2 linked regions of the Homo sapiens genome follow. The protein of the gene in region 2 purifies or fractionates together with the protein of the main gene of each other region. This does not show direct contact. Each region holds a gene or a part of one and is shown on either strand. Other genes may lie near its edges.

What was found. The genes of interacting proteins can lie anywhere in the genome.
Region 1: the proteins of VIP (region 2) and KLHL13 purify together in Homo sapiens (co-immunoprecipitation; 2 studies listed by BioGRID and IntAct, with this or other methods). This does not show direct contact.

What each region holds. Positions count from the first base shown.
Region 1 is NC_000023.11:118,113,380-118,121,777, forward strand, and holds the start of KLHL13 (kelch-like protein 13), read right to left. Parts: upstream 3,432-8,398; 5' UTR 3,129-3,431; intron 1-3,128. UniProt on the Homo sapiens protein: Substrate-specific adapter of a BCR (BTB-CUL3-RBX1) E3 ubiquitin-protein ligase complex required for mitotic progression and cytokinesis.
Region 2 is NC_000006.12:152,753,658-152,760,809, reverse strand, and holds the end of VIP (VIP peptides isoform 1 preproprotein), read right to left. Parts: intron 6,645-7,152; coding exon 6,522-6,644; intron 5,935-6,521; exon of another isoform or gene 5,542-5,934; coding exon 5,437-5,541; exon of another isoform or gene 4,677-5,436; coding exon 4,545-4,676; exon of another isoform or gene 3,715-4,544; coding exon 3,669-3,714; 3' UTR 3,626-3,668; exon of another isoform or gene 2,020-3,625; intron 1,901-2,019; 3' UTR 1,050-1,900; downstream 1-1,049. UniProt on the Homo sapiens protein: PHM-27 and PHV-42 are two bioactive forms from proteolysis of the same precursor protein, that cause vasodilation. PHM-27 is a potent agonist of the calcitonin receptor CALCR, with similar efficacy as calcitonin.

The DNA of each region.
Region 1 (8,398 bases), on a different chromosome or scaffold from region 2:
TTCCTATTGTTCTGAGAATCAAACCCAAATTCTTTCTCAGGACCTCCAAGTCCTATTTATCGGTTATTGAGCTGCTTCTAGGCTCTGTAACATCTTCTTTAATCCGCCATGCTGGCTTGCTTTCTGCTCTTCAAAAACGCCAAGTCTCTTTTTCCCCCCTCAAGGCCTTGGCTCTTACTCTTCTCTCTGCAAGAATGTTATCTCGGGAATGTTCTCCCAGATCCTGACAAGGTAGGCCTATTCTCTCTTCTCTTTCAGGTCTCTGCTCAATCATCTTCTCTGAAAGGCCTTTTCTGACTTCCCACACTAAAGTAGGCCCTTCCTAGCTATCTGTATCATATTCCCCTACTTATTTTCATTGCTCTTACTACAGTCTATAAGGATCTTCTTCATTTGTTTGCTCGTTTATTGTCTGTATTCTCTGGTAGAATATAAGCACTGTGATACTCCACAAGAGCAAAGATCATGCCTTATAAGGTTTATCATTGTGCCTAACACAGGGCCTTGGCACACAAGTACCCAGTAGATTTTGTAAAATGAATTAGTAAATGAATGAATGATACATAAAAACCTGATTGTTATGAATATCAGTAACTTGAGAAAGCCATTTTTATAATTTTGAGATATTTTCTCTAGGGCTATTCATTTCTCTACAGTCTTTCCACATTTTCTGAAATAATTCCTGGAAATTTGTTGTATTATTTCATAGCAATAAAAATACATCGGTTTCAATCAGTGGATTTAAGAAAAAAATATTTTCAAGAGGTTTTAGTGGTTTATCAAACATCAATAAAAATCAAACAATTTGAAAATTGGTCAGTCTCATTTCACTACTGCAAGTCAAATTACATGAAGAAGCATAATTTGAAATGTACATAAAATGAGAAAGAAGATAATCCAATAAGTAAGTGCAGTTACATTTAGTAATATCAGAAATATCCAGTCTGCTAACCTCTAGGTGTACCAGATGGACTATCAAACACATATTGAGTCATATTGAAGATTCAGAGCAAAATGCTTATGGCTAACTCATCCACCTTTATTCTTTTCCTGGCAAATATAAATAGTCTTACTATGCAATCACATTAGCAGCAATCTTAGCTTAGATTTTGTATCAATAATAAGCATGAAAAGAAAAAAGTAAGAAAATAGTATAAACTCTTTTCCTTGAAAAAGTTGTAAGTTTTTATGTATTTTGAGAATAGTTTGCTAAGAAAATTACAGACTTAGAAAGTGGGCCTATTAGAATAAGTACCCTTTCCCTACTACATTCCATTTTTTAATAAACCTCAAGTAAACTCAGGAATTTACCAAATCAATTGGGAAACTACAAATCATCTGCAAGTTATCTAACTAAATTGATAAGCAATAGGCCTTACTTTTCTTGTGAAAACTACTTTCTTCAGAACATCAACTGAGCCTTATATAATCACACTACACTTTTTGAAGTGTGCTTATAAAAATGGCAGATTGAAAACCTTGGGCTTTTTAATAATTGAAGCTCTTATTTATCTGTTTTTTAAATACATCATTTGATGTTGCAGCAGAAACTACTCTCATCTCACTGCCATAAGACGTGCTACCAGGACAGTGAAATTTAGCCATTATCTTCATTCACAACCTGGTTTCTTCTGAGATTGCTGCCAATTAGTGCACACTGTGTCAATGGCAACACTTGGTCATACATCAGGCAAACAACTCTTTTACCGTTAAGTATGAGGATATTAATAAGAACTTGCAGTTAAGGGAGCTAATATTTTTAGATGTAAAATGATGTCATAAATGCTGAATTATTTCATTTTTCTCAGTTTTTAAATTTGAACACTAGATACAGTCTATTTCCAAAAACACAGCTGCGTATGTCAGCATGTGCTTGTTCACTGGTATTTGCCTCCACTTTGTGCTTCTCCATTCAGCTTTCTTCACACACTAATTGCAGTATGAAAGTGAGCAAATGAACCTCAGTATGGGAGCTAACACCACAACTACATGGGGAGAAAGCGATATCGCTAAGAGTGAGTAGTCTTTTTTGTAACTACGTGGTTTTAAAATATGCTGCTTTTAGAGGGTTTATACAAACATGAAATCTACTGTTAAGAAACTGTGGCTTCAAAAAAAAGAAAGCAGGTGCCCTCCAGAGACAGTTTTAAATCCCAGCGTCTCTTAGTCTCCATTCAATGTGCTTAGTTACCAGCCTATGCTAACTTGAGCGACTTTATCCCAAACCACTAAAGTCCTCTGACTACATTAAAACGATTAACATCCTAGTTTACAATTAGAGAAATGGAGCCAGGCATCACAATTCCCACCAATCCTCTCTCTCAGGCCTGCTCAGCAGCCAGGGAAGAATCAGATTTAGGACCATGTACGAAGATTGCGTACCAACATATATACATACATTTTAAGTGGCTATTGTTCTTGGACTAAGTTAATGAAACCTAGAAAGAAACTTTAAAGTTCCCTAGTTGATATTTACTAAGGCTATTTAGTGAAGGAATGATCTCATCACTTTCAGTAAACTGTAGCCTAGACTATAAGCCTCCAAGAAAATCATTAGTCAACTGTAATTAAACAAACAAACAAACAAAAAAGTCAAAATATTCAGAGCTGAAGACATTCAGAGCTAAGTTAAAAGCTTCGAGGAAGAAGAGGAGTGTGCTCCTGACTTGGGAGCCAGCAGAGGAGCCTCCTAAGTTAGAAGATTCTGAAGGAGAGATGGATTAGGAGGCACAAAGCAGAAACTGTTAGAGGGCAAGAGACAGTAGGGCCGGGGCGGGCAGCGGGACCCCAGACCGTCAGGGCAGCAACAGCGAGGCCCAGAGGAGAAGATCTTGGAGAGATGACAAAGAAGCACAGGAAAGCCGGGTTCTGGGGTCCTAGAAGAACCCAGGCGTCCGACGGAGCCAGAGGGACCGGCAGAAAGGGATGCGAAGGTGTAAGGATGAGGGCGCGCACCAGCACGCGGGAGAAAAAGAGGGGGCGGCGGGCAAAATGAAGCTGTTTCCCTGCTCCTCTGCTCCTCTGCCCCTGGTACAGATCGCAACTCCTCGCCGCGCACCGCGCAGCGCCGGGTCCGAAGGCAGGGAAGCGGCTGCTGGAGCCCCTGTGACTTCAGGACCCTGCCTCACCTTGCTCGCCGCGTCCTGGCGTCCCGCCGCTTGTCCGCCGGGTGCTGCGCTCCGAGGGCCAAAGAGGGAGTCGCGCGGCGCAGCCGGGGCTCCCTCCTGCTGCGAGGCACCAGCACCCGCACCTTCGCACCCTCTGCTCGCCCCGACCACTTCACCCTGTCCTGGCGCAGGCGGAGAGCACGGACCCTAACCCGAATGCCGCTGCAGTTATTTTCAAAAGTCCCCGTTCCAGGCTTCCCAGGAATAGGAGCTGAGCTACTGCGGCCGCAGCGGCAGAGCCTCCGCCTGACCTCACCAGGGTGTGGGGGGGCTGCTGAGGGAGGGGGGCGGGAACCCAGTTGGGGAGGGAGGGGGCAGTGGGGGGGGGAGCGCGCGGGCGGGGGAAACATGGCGGCGGGGGTGGCCCCGGCGGCGCCTGCGCGGGAGGCAGGGTGGCGGGGAGCCGGGGCTAGGACGGTGTGTGGGGTCCGAACGGAACTCCCAGGCTGTAGCGAAAGCGTGACAGGGCCGGACCCTGAAGCTGAATGACCGCTAAGTGGCCCTCACGCCTCGGAAACCGGGAGGCTCTGGTGTGAGCCCACATGGATTCTAGTGCCGGGAGGCAGAAAAAGTGAAAAGTGTCAAGTATCCAGGGACAACAGTGCAGCCGCCCCGGGTTAGCCACTCCAAGGAGGTCCACCCGTGCATTCTGCCAGCCGTGGCCTCGGCCTCCTCATAGTCACGGCGGGGCCCGAGCAAAGGGTGTGCCCTGGAAGCGGTGCCACCTCACCTCAGTGGGGCCCACGTCTCAAAATAAGCCTGACCCAGGCTCTCACACAAATATCACTCTTCTAGTGGGATAAGCGCTTCATCCCTCCCCCTCCCTGCTGCAGTACACAACATTAAGAAAGAGGAAGGATAAAAACTACAAATAACAGTTTAACATTTTACTGAGCGTCTGCTATGAACCAAGCACTGAAGCATCAACTTACCTAATTCACAGCTACTCTACAAGTTACACACTATTGTCTCCATTTTACAAGTGACAAAACTGAGGTGTATAGGTTAACCAAGTTGCCAGAGGTTACATAAATAGTAAGTGGCAGAGCGGGACTCAGGATCCCAAGCGGTGTGATTCTGGTACCCAGGCTCTTAACCACTATGCAAACTGCTTCCAAACTCTGGTGGGACTGCTCTTCTAAGTCAGAATCTTGATTCTGCTCTATCAGCCTAGCCCCCAAAAAAAACCCCAGTCAAGCCTGTTTTTCCCCTTGCTTGTCTTCTATTCATTCTTTGCCTTCTTGACGGTTACAGCCTGGGGCCACCTTCTTACACCTATTCCTTTGCCCTTTCTACTTATAATTCCAGACTCCTCCTTGGGAAAATAAAGGGAGTTTGCTCTTAGCAACCAGTTTAATCACTATTGTGATTTTTTTTCTTTGGCTGTTTTTTTCTTCTTCTTCTTCTTAAGGAAGTGATGCGGTGAGTGTGGAATCTTTATGTTTTCTAGGATTTCTCCCTCTGGGATCTGAGATCTTCAACATTGCTGACTTTGTATTTCAACTTACATACACTGAAATTCTAGTAGTAGGTTTTAGGTAAATTTGAGAATAATCAGCTACTCAAAAACTTGCTAGAACTAAAGATAATACCACATTGTTGGACTTTACCAAATAATCAAAGAACTCCAAATATACATAGAATTTGCATTATTACCTTTTACGTGCAAGTGTATTGAACCCAATTCCCCTTTGTTAACAGGAATGCTTCCACTGGCTTCTCCACTATGCTTATTCAATAATTATTGTATACCTACCTTACACACTAAATGCTTATTGGGTAGAAAGCACCTTGTACAGAAGTTTACAATCTCACTGAGGTGATATATTCCAAACAATCACTTTTAGCATGTATCAAAAACCTGGCACACAGGTTAAAAAAAAAATAAGTACAAACTGAGCTGGTGTACACTCGAGTCACTGCTTTGTCCTGCCATAAAAAGGTTCAAGTGGGGTTACTTTATAATAAGTTTCTCCCACAGAAATGCCAGTAAAAATGGGATAATCCAGTGTGGGCCAAGCAGCCCTTATCTACACAAAGAGAAAACCCTCATAGCAAGGGTGTTGAGATGGGGGCAACTGCAGGATCTGCATTTGAACTGCCAGTAGCTTGCACAGATTCTCAGTTTAAAAAAAAAGAAAAAAGAAAAAGAACTGGCAATAAGATATTACAAATATGCTTATCCAATAGAAGTCCATTGCTGTTTGGGTTCGGATGCTTTATCTGAATACTTAATCTACTGGATAGAGCACTAGACTCAGAGTCAGAAGACAATTTATGTGCTATGTGACATTAAGTTAGTGCTCTGAGAGTGTTTTCCCAAATTTCCAGTGGGGAGCAAAATAATACTGGTCTGATATGCCCCACAGCATTGTTTTGGGTTTCAAATAAGATAACACATGGGAGAGTATGTTGCATTTGGAGAAAAGGTCTTTAAAGAGGTAATTCAGTTAAAGTAATGTCTCTAAGATGGGCCCGAATCCAATATGACTGGTGTCCTTTTAAGAAGAGTTTAGGACTTAGACATATATGCACATAGAGGAAGGACCATGTGAGGATGCAGTGAGAAGGCAACCACTTGCAAGACAAGATGGGGCTTCAGAAGAAACCAAACTTACCTACACCTTGATCTTCCAGAATTACAAGAAAATAAATTTCTGTTGTTTAAGTTACCCAGTCTATGGTGTTATACTTTGTTATGGCAGGTCTAGCAAACGAACATAATGGGAAGCATTTCAAATGCCAGCTAGAGTATCCGCTGACTTAGTTATTGTTCATTGCTAAAAACACACACATTAATTATCTGTTTCCACGTGTCAGGAGTCCAGGTATGGTTTAGCTTGGAGCACTGCTCAGGGTCTCACAAGGCTGCAATCAAGTTTTTGGCTGGGCTGTGTTCTCATGTGCAACTCAGAATCTTCTTCCAAACTCATTCAGATTGTTGGCCAAATTCAGTTCCTTGCAGTTACAGAATTAAGACCCGTAGCATTTACTGGATCTAGAGGCAGCCCCTCTCCATTAGCAGTTGACAACATGGTTGTTCTACTTAGCCAAGGCCAACAGAAAAACTTCTTTCTCCTCAGGAGGGGTCCAGTGCCTCTTTTAAGGTCTTTTACCAGATTAAGTCAGGCCCACCCAAGATTATCACCCCTTTGATTAACTCAAAAATTAACTGTGTGCCTTGATTACATCTGCAAAATCTCTTCACCTTTGCCACATAATGTAACCTAATCACAAGAGTGATAGCCCAGCATATTCACAGGTCCCAACCATACCTAAGTGGAGAATGTATAACAGAAGACAAGAATCTTAGGACCATCTTAGAATTCTCCCTACCATGCCCCAAAGATTTGACAGCACCAATTAATTATACAATTATAAAAATTAACTAAGAGACCATACAGGCAGATGTGGGCACACACATAACATACATACACACACACACACACACACACACACACACACCAAAGTACACAGAGCTGGTAGCTGATCCCTAATCGGTCTAAAAGCATTTGCAAGCTTGCTGTGTGCCTAATGTGAAACTAAAAGATTTCAACTGCATTAATTCTGACTAAAAAACAAATTGAAAACTATTTAGGATACATTTTGTCTCTCTGGTAAATTTGCATTTCCTCAAAACACTCATCTCATCAATTATTGAATGGAGCCTATTATTGAATGGAATCTATTATAAAAAAAAAAACCCTCACAGGGCTTTGGGTAGCATACACAGAAGGGTCTTGCTTTAGAAGTTAGAGATAAATCTGATTAAAGATGTGTAAGACCTGTCCTGAAAACTTTAGGCTTAAATAAATGTAGAAATATACTGTATTCATAGGGCAGAAGAATTGATATCATTAAGATGTCAATTCACTCCTAATTGATTTATAGTTACAGCACAACCCCGATCAAAGTCCTAGCTGGCTTTTTCTGTAGAAATTGACAAGCTGATTCTAAAGTTCATATGGAAATTGAATAAAATAGCCAAAACAACTTTTACAAAGAGCATTAGGGGGATAATACTACCTGATTTCAATTTTTACTGTAAAGCTACAATATTCAAGACAGTGTGGTATTGATCAATGAAACAGAATAGAGTCCATAAACAGACCCACAACGTATATGGGCAAGTTATTTTCAACAAATATTCAAAAGCAATTCAGCTTTTTGAGGAACCTCCATACTTCTTTCCATAGTGAGAGCACCAGTTTATATTGCCACCAACAGTCTCCACATCCACGTCAATACCTGTTATTCATCCTTTTGACAATAGCCATTCTAACAGCTGTGAGGTGATATTTCACTGTGGTTTTAATTTGCATTTCCCCTGATGATTAGAGATTTTCAACATTTTTTAATATATTTGTTGGGGATTTGTATCTCTTCTTTTGAGAAATGCCTGCTCAGATTCCTTTCCCCTCTCTGGGTATATATTCAAAGGAATTGAAATCAGTATGTTAAAGAGATATCTGCACTCCAGTGTTTATTTCAGCATTATTCATAGTAGTCAAAACGTGGAAGCAATCTAAGAATCCATCAATGAATGAATGGATAAAGAAAATGTAGTACATATACACAATGAAATACTATACAACCTTAAAAAAGAAATTCTGTCATTTGCATCCATGACAACATGGAAAGAATTGGAGGAAATTATGCTAAGTGAAATAAGCCAGACATAGACAATACTGTATGATCTCACTTATATGTGGAATCTAAAAAAGTCAATCTCATAGAAACAGAAAGTAGAAAAATGGTTATCAGAGGCAGGGGAAGGAGGAGGAAGCATGGGGAAAGTGAGGATGTTGATCAAAGGGTCCAAAGTTTCAGTTAGACTGGAGAATAAATTTTAGTGACCTATTGCACAGCATGGTGACCGCAGCTAATAGTGTATATTTCAAAACTGCTAAAATAGATTTTTAGAATTCTCACCACAAAAAAAAGATAAGTTGGTGAGGTGATGGATACGTTATTTATCTTGATTAAATCTTTCTATAATGTATACATAGACGCAAACCTCACATTGTATCCCACAGATATGCACAATTATTATTTGTCCATTTAAAAAATTTAAAGGCAATTCAGTGGAGAAAGGGTAGCTTTTTTCAACAATGGTGCTGGAACAACTGGACATCCATGTGAACTAAGATCCATACCTAATACCATCTACAAAAATTAATTCAAAATGCATCATAGACCTAAATGTAAAATCTGGAGCTAGAAAATTTCCA
Region 2 (7,152 bases):
ATAGCACATCATAGTCATTCAGTGAATATTTCTTCAATGAATTTCTTGAAGCAATAGGGAATAAATTGAAAAGATTCATATTAATAAAATAAAATTAAAACTCTTTAGTTACACACTCAAATTATGGCTCCATTTCATCTTTACAAGCTTTTTATGTACACTTAACACTTAGAAATTGTCTGTTTTCACTGCAGTGCTTCTCATAAAAATGTCACTTAATAAATATTTAATAATTTGAAGAATCAGATAAGAAAAAGAGATACAAGAAGCTCAATTTACTTCAACTTGTGAAAACTACTTTGCAATTACTGGTACTTCTAGACTAGTTCCTCCTGATGTGGCCATTTGTCCTAATTGTAGAAAATGAAACCAAGCAAAACTTTGCCTTATGGGGATAATGCTTCTTCATTAATGGTTAGGGTCTGACTCTCGCTCTCTTTATTATTTCTTTAAGCTTTTTGGGTGAGAATTTAAGATCCAAGCCTGGAATTATTTTTAATCGCTGCATACATTTATTCTTTCCTTGTTTTATATTAATAGAGTCTTAGTTTTAAGTTGGGTACATGATCACCCAGAAAAAGAAAAGAAAACATACTACATTTCCCAGCCTCTCTTGCAAATGACTGTGGCCATAAGACTATGTACTAGTAAAGGGGATGTTAGTATAAGATATCAGTTCAAAGAGAACTGGCATATAATATTTGCTCCCTTTTTTCTTCCTATAGCCTGCTGCCTGGAATGCATATGTGATGGCTGGAATGCTAGCTCTAATTTTGGATCATGAGGAAAAGTGCCACACCATTGGAGATGAGGGATGAGCTGGAAGGGGTGTAAGTTATTGAGGGTTTTGCTGAGCAGAACCATTATAATAACCCTGACATCTTACTTCTTGACTTACGTGAGAAAGAAATTTCTCTTTTATTTTAAGCCATCATTATTTTAGAACTTGCACACAATCAAATACCACAAAAGCTATCTAGTGCCTAGAACTTTAGAGCTAAAATGAGTTACTGCTGAATCATATAAAATAATCAAACAAAAAAATTATCTGCAATCATAAGCAAGGTCTTTATTTTCTCTCTTTGATTTCTTAAAATTATTTTGGAAAAATAGTTGTGTCTCCAAATGTACTTTCACAGAAGGAAGCTCATATGACCAAAGCAATATTCTGAGTCATTATGGCAAAAATATTTATTATTGAACAACTGAGTGTTTCATTCACTTCACATTTTACACATACTTAACACAAGCAGAAAGGGAAGTTTCAGTGTCAGAAGCAGGGGTCGTTCTCCTTAACTGAAAGACTATCAGGAGAGAGCCTTTGGTGATTAGCAATCCAAATTTGAGATTTTTTAAAACACCATTAAAAATAAAGGTTGCCTATAAAATATGGAAACACATAATATTTTCTGAAAATCTTTTTGGAAGAATGTCTTTTTATCTTCATTGTTACTATCTTAGACATTTTGAGGTTTATTTAACACAGCATTCCATCTGCTTAACATTCAAATTTAGACACACTGATTATCTGTTCTACTCTCCTGAATAGTTAAGTACACTCTATAAATAAACACATCAATTTTGCTCTATTACTACTCTTCCAAAAACGTCTCATATAATTGGAATTAACCTAGCATTTACTTATCATTAAATATATTTTTTTGTTAGAAAGGATATACAGCATATGAAATTGCAGGCTTTTTATGAGTTAAAGACAAAATTTAGAACTCTCAAATACTATTTACAATGTAAACTTCACAGTTATTACATTAGCTAGAATACATCACAACATTCACAACACAATATTTTTATTTGGTTTGGATATTGAAGTTGTTTTCTTGAATTACTTATGTAGAACTCAAAATTTAATTATGTTGCGTATCATTTTCCTTCAAGAATTCTGAAAAAGAAAAAATTGTTGCTTTAGGCATAAAATATATTTTATTTCTAGCATCTTAGTTTCATTCACTGATTTACTTATCTGATAAACACTTATTTCTCTTTGTCCCTTGTTAACAGCCTGTGGCAGGGGATCATGTCCTGGGACATACCAAGAGAGCAGCTTCTAGAGGACTGATTATCAGAGAGGAACTGGAATGTGAAAAGACGTCTAACTAACCATTATTAATGATTCACTTGTAATTTTCACTAATGGATGACCCACATGATTTCCTCTTCAAAGAATTTGTCCAAAGCCACCCATTTAAAAAAGAAAAGAATGGAGGATGGAATCTCATAAGTGATCTTACCATTTACAAAGCACAGTGTGATTAATCAATTCTCCTTTATATTTTAGTGCCTACCGTGTTTCTTAATTTGATGGAGAAGCCTTCTTATAAACACTCTTAGAAAAGCTATATGTAATTAACTTTCTTCTTTGAGCAAAGGGACTTGTTTCTCTGAGATGTCTATAAAAGATAAAGAGTTGATGTGGGCCACACTCCTGCCTCTGCTTTCTCTTAGAGGTCTAAGGGTAATTAGTGGACAAAAGCAGTCAATTAAGCAGGTATCTTCCCAGACACCATGTCCACTCTTGATGACTGTTGAAAACCTTAGATAACCCCATCAGGAACTGAGGTAAGGCCATGAATTGCCTTTAGTTTGAGCATGGGTGAATTTAATCTCCTTAACCTAGTTAGGGATTGGAATCTGGCTCACCTTCAGGTTTTATGAATAAAGTTTTATTGGAACACAGTCACTCCTATTCGTTTTACATCTAACTGTGGCTGCTTTTGTGCTACCATAGCAGAGTTAAGTCACTCTAACAGAAAATAGATGGCTCACAAAGCCAAACATATTTTACTCCATAGCCCTTTAAAATCTGCTAACCTTTGATATGGTGACAGCATGAAATTTCTTTAAGCACTTGCCCAGTATTATAGATTTTTTATGAGCGAATGTGAATATTAATGTAATGTAACTCAGGAAAGAAATATGTCTTGAACCCACATTTATATAAAATCAATTTTGATAGCAAGCTTATTACTTCACAAAGAAAAAAAGTCTATCCATGTTTTTTCTGCTCAAAAAAAATGTTGGCAGAGAATGCTATTAGAGTCATATAGGTAAAACAAACTTACAGGTAAAACAAGCTAAATTTAACTTTTGCTCTATGAAGTTTGCCATGTTTCAAGGAATATAGTTAGACCCAGAATGCCTTGATATTTTCATAGTAATGGGCCATGCTCTAATTTGGTGCTATTTCCCTATACTTAATTGAGGAGCTAACAGTCAATTGTGAGACTAAACCTTCAATTAATAAAAGCAGCATGGGTCGATCCTCAAAAGGAAAGCCCATTTTTCTTGTCAGTGTGAGTCAGCCTCCTCTGTTTTTTTATCTTGATACAAAGGTAGAAATAACCCCAAGTAAGCCAGGAACACTATTCAGATCTCAAAACGTTTGCTTATTGTGAGTGCTCTCTTTTACAAGATCAAAAAAATTTCATGAATCATTCTAAGCTGTTTACTGGGTTGGGGTCCACTGTTGTAGAAGTGTCTGTCTTGGATGAGGTCTCATGATGAGAAACTATTTAACCCTAAGATGTTTCTTACTAAGTGACTCTTAGCTACTTATATAATCAGAGACAGCCATAAGAATACAGAAGGAATGCACGAATATACCCACCACTGGGAAGTTGTCATCAGCTTTGCTCCAAAGGTCTTTTTCATCATTTTTCTAACTCTTCTGGAAAGTCGGGAGATTCTCCCTCACTGCTGCAGACCAGAAAAACATTGTACATATTAAGGCTCTCAGATGAGAAAGGGTCTAAAGAAACTATTATGACATAATGAATGTGCTGTTCTCTGTGCTCTGAAAGTGTATGGGGAGGCTAAACAATTATCTTTGAGGTTTGTTAGTACCTATGAATTATTCATCAATCTTAGAGTTTCTAAAATTATTCTCACAGAATTATCATCTAGTGGGCAAAGAGGTCATCTTGTCTGATCACACCCAAACAGAATTATCCTTAATACTCATCACTTAAACAAAAACAATTGGAATAAAAAGACAGAACACTACACTGTTTATGTATTGTGTCCAATATTTACACACCATAGAGAGATATAGATTTTACAGAATCTAAATATACAAAATACCTAATGGTTTAATTTGATTAAATAACAGTAGTGAATATGCACACGAAGTGAGTTCCATGTGTTACCAAATTGCAATTGACTATGCTTTACATGTTTTAAAAATCATCACTTTTGATGAAACTTGCTCTTAGATTCAGACTAGATGTCTGTATAGTCATCATTTTTAACACTGGCAGCATAGTAAAGTCAACTGGGGAACTCTTAAAAGAAATGTATGTCTAGGGCCACACCACCGAAGACACCGATTTCCTGGCAATTGGTTTGGGAGAAGGCCCAGACATCTGTATTTTTAAAGTTCTGCGGGGTAGTCTAATGTCAGCCAAGGTTGAAAATCACTGCTTCACGTAGTATAGCTAGATAAGTGAGATAGAGAGGTCTCCATGTGCAGCTTCTATTTTGAAAGTCAGTCATGATTCCTCATTTTAGCAAGTTCTCTTTTTCTTTACCTCCTCTTTCCATTCAGAATTGAGTTCAAATATTTCTTTACAGCCATTTGTTTTCTAAGGCGGGTATAGTTGTCAGTGAAGACTGCATCTGAGTGACGTTTGACTGGTACAGGGTCTTCTGAGATGTTACTGCTAAGGAACATGAGGAAAAGGAAATCAAAGAGTTTTCACAAGAAATGATAAATACACACATGTTCCAGGTTTCTTGGAGCCACATAAAAAGCAATTCCCACCCAACTAATTTTCTATCATAAAAAGACTAAAAGAAAAATACAACTAAACCTAAGGATGAAGGAAAGCAAGGAATCATCTGCCATATTTTGGCATGGCCTGGGACTGTTTTATGACACATTCTGTACAGCTGAGCAAATAATTCATCCAAAAATAAAAATTTGGGAATAGCTGAAGTTGTGCTCTGCCATTGGGAGAAATTTTTTTTTTTTTTAAAAAAAACATAATTACTTCTTTAGAAGCTATGCTACCCTGAGCAACGTCATCTAAATATTTGACTGTTGGCCATTTGGAATTCTCCATTTAATTTGAGCAGGAAGTAAAAAGAATATTCTGTTTGACCTTAAAATTTACCTCAGTCTGTACTATCTCTTTTTGATTGTTTTACTGAGTCTTGTTCAATTTGATTGCAGATTGCTAAATGATTGCTACTTGAGAAAAATGTGTGTCTGGAGTCAATGAATATGATATTATGAAAAAGTCTTAGTCCATGGGCTTGATAGATGTTATTGAAGAATACAAGTTATTTCATTTAACTAAATTAAACATTATCAACGAGTTTTCAATTTCAAACAAAGTAAATAACTTGTTAAGAGTGAAAATACAATATTCAGATTGAATAATGATAACATATTTTATAAAAATAATAAATTCTCTTTACCTAACACGTTTTCCCATAAGAGACTCAAGGTACTTTTTGGCAGAAAGTTGACCCAAGAGTTTACTGAAGTCACTGGTGAAAACTCCATCAGCATGCCTGGCATTTCTAAAACAAGGAAGAAAAAAATAGCTATTATTTTGTAAATGGCTTTCTAGAATATTATTATGGCTTATTAAATAACAAAAAAATTATGGGCTTATTATGAAAGCTTCTCATTAAAACTAAAGTTCAAAAGGAGATTTCTTAACACCCTAACAAAAGAGATCTTCTAGTCACTTATATCAAGATATACCCTATATTTCTAGCCCAAGACACTGAAAAATTAAAGAAACAGGCATTTCTAGGAGCACATTTCAATATTCCTCCATGGTTGAATCTTTATAACTATTTCTTTCTAAGAAATATTGGTGTAAAAATATGATCTATTTAAATTAGCTGCTATTTGTACATGGTGCTTTGTGTCTGCCCCACTGAATAAAGACATTCACAATGGGAAAATATTCTGATTTTGGAAAGTTCATAAACCCCAGTACACCTTTTTTTTTCTTTTTCCAAAATATTTGGAAACAAAATCTCTTAAGATAGAGAAGGCATTAAGGCCTATCATCCCACCTTTTCTCTTTCAAATGAAGCACCTTTTATACTTTGTCTGTACCAAGTACTATAGAGCTACTTGGTCTGTACTTGAAATGATGCTCTAGACAAACAGCTCTATGAATGAACAGCTCTATCAGGTATCTTTTCTTTATATAGAGACAAAACTCCTTGGCAACTCTTCCATCATTGGAATGCTAAATGCTGTACTTTTATCAGAATTGGTACAATCTGTGATGTTGGAATTATGTGCAACAGAATGGAAGTGAATGGTGTGTTCATCCTGGCTTGTTACAACCTTTCAGTATGAAAATTATGTACAGCTGTAAGATCTGCAGTAAATCAGGATGAATGAAGCCATGACACATAGAAACCTCTAGTGTTTTGCTATCGGAATAGCTTCATGGTGAGATAAAATAAGCACGTTTATAGTTCTTAAACACATTTTCTAAAATAAAACTCATTGGATAGTTTTATAAAAATAAACTCACCTGGATACATCATAATAGGGTGTGTCATTTTCAGCTAATGCATTTTGCAACATGTCAATGTCTTCTTTTAATGAAACTTGATCAGGTTCATTTGCTCCCTCAAAGGGTATTCTGTCACCCAACCTGATGGGGAAAGTTACACGAGAATAATACATTCTTTTTTCAGAAGACAGTGTGTATGGTTCCGCAACCATTTAAAATAAGATACTTAGACTCTTGGGAAGTATTACCCAGTCATAATATGAGAATAGCATAATTTGACTTAATGGCTCATATAGTTAATGAGAGTATAAATAGGAAATTCCTATTATCCTATAAAGTAGATGCCATATGACTTTTATAAGCTGAATATACAAAACACAAGAGCTACTTAATTCAATCTTATCAGAGCATTAAGCAAACTATACTTCTTTGGTGTAATTTACTATGCCAAGAATATCTTCACTTTGCAAAGTCAAATTTCGTATGTAGAAATATTTTATGCAAAATAGAAACTTGCAAAAAACTAATATTGAATGAGAACTGATAACAATTTATGGATTTGGTGATGTTCAGTATTACCTGTTCCAAACATCTCTGAAGAACAGAGTATTAACTGCTTCTCTCTCTCTCGACCCCCAAGCTTTGCTTC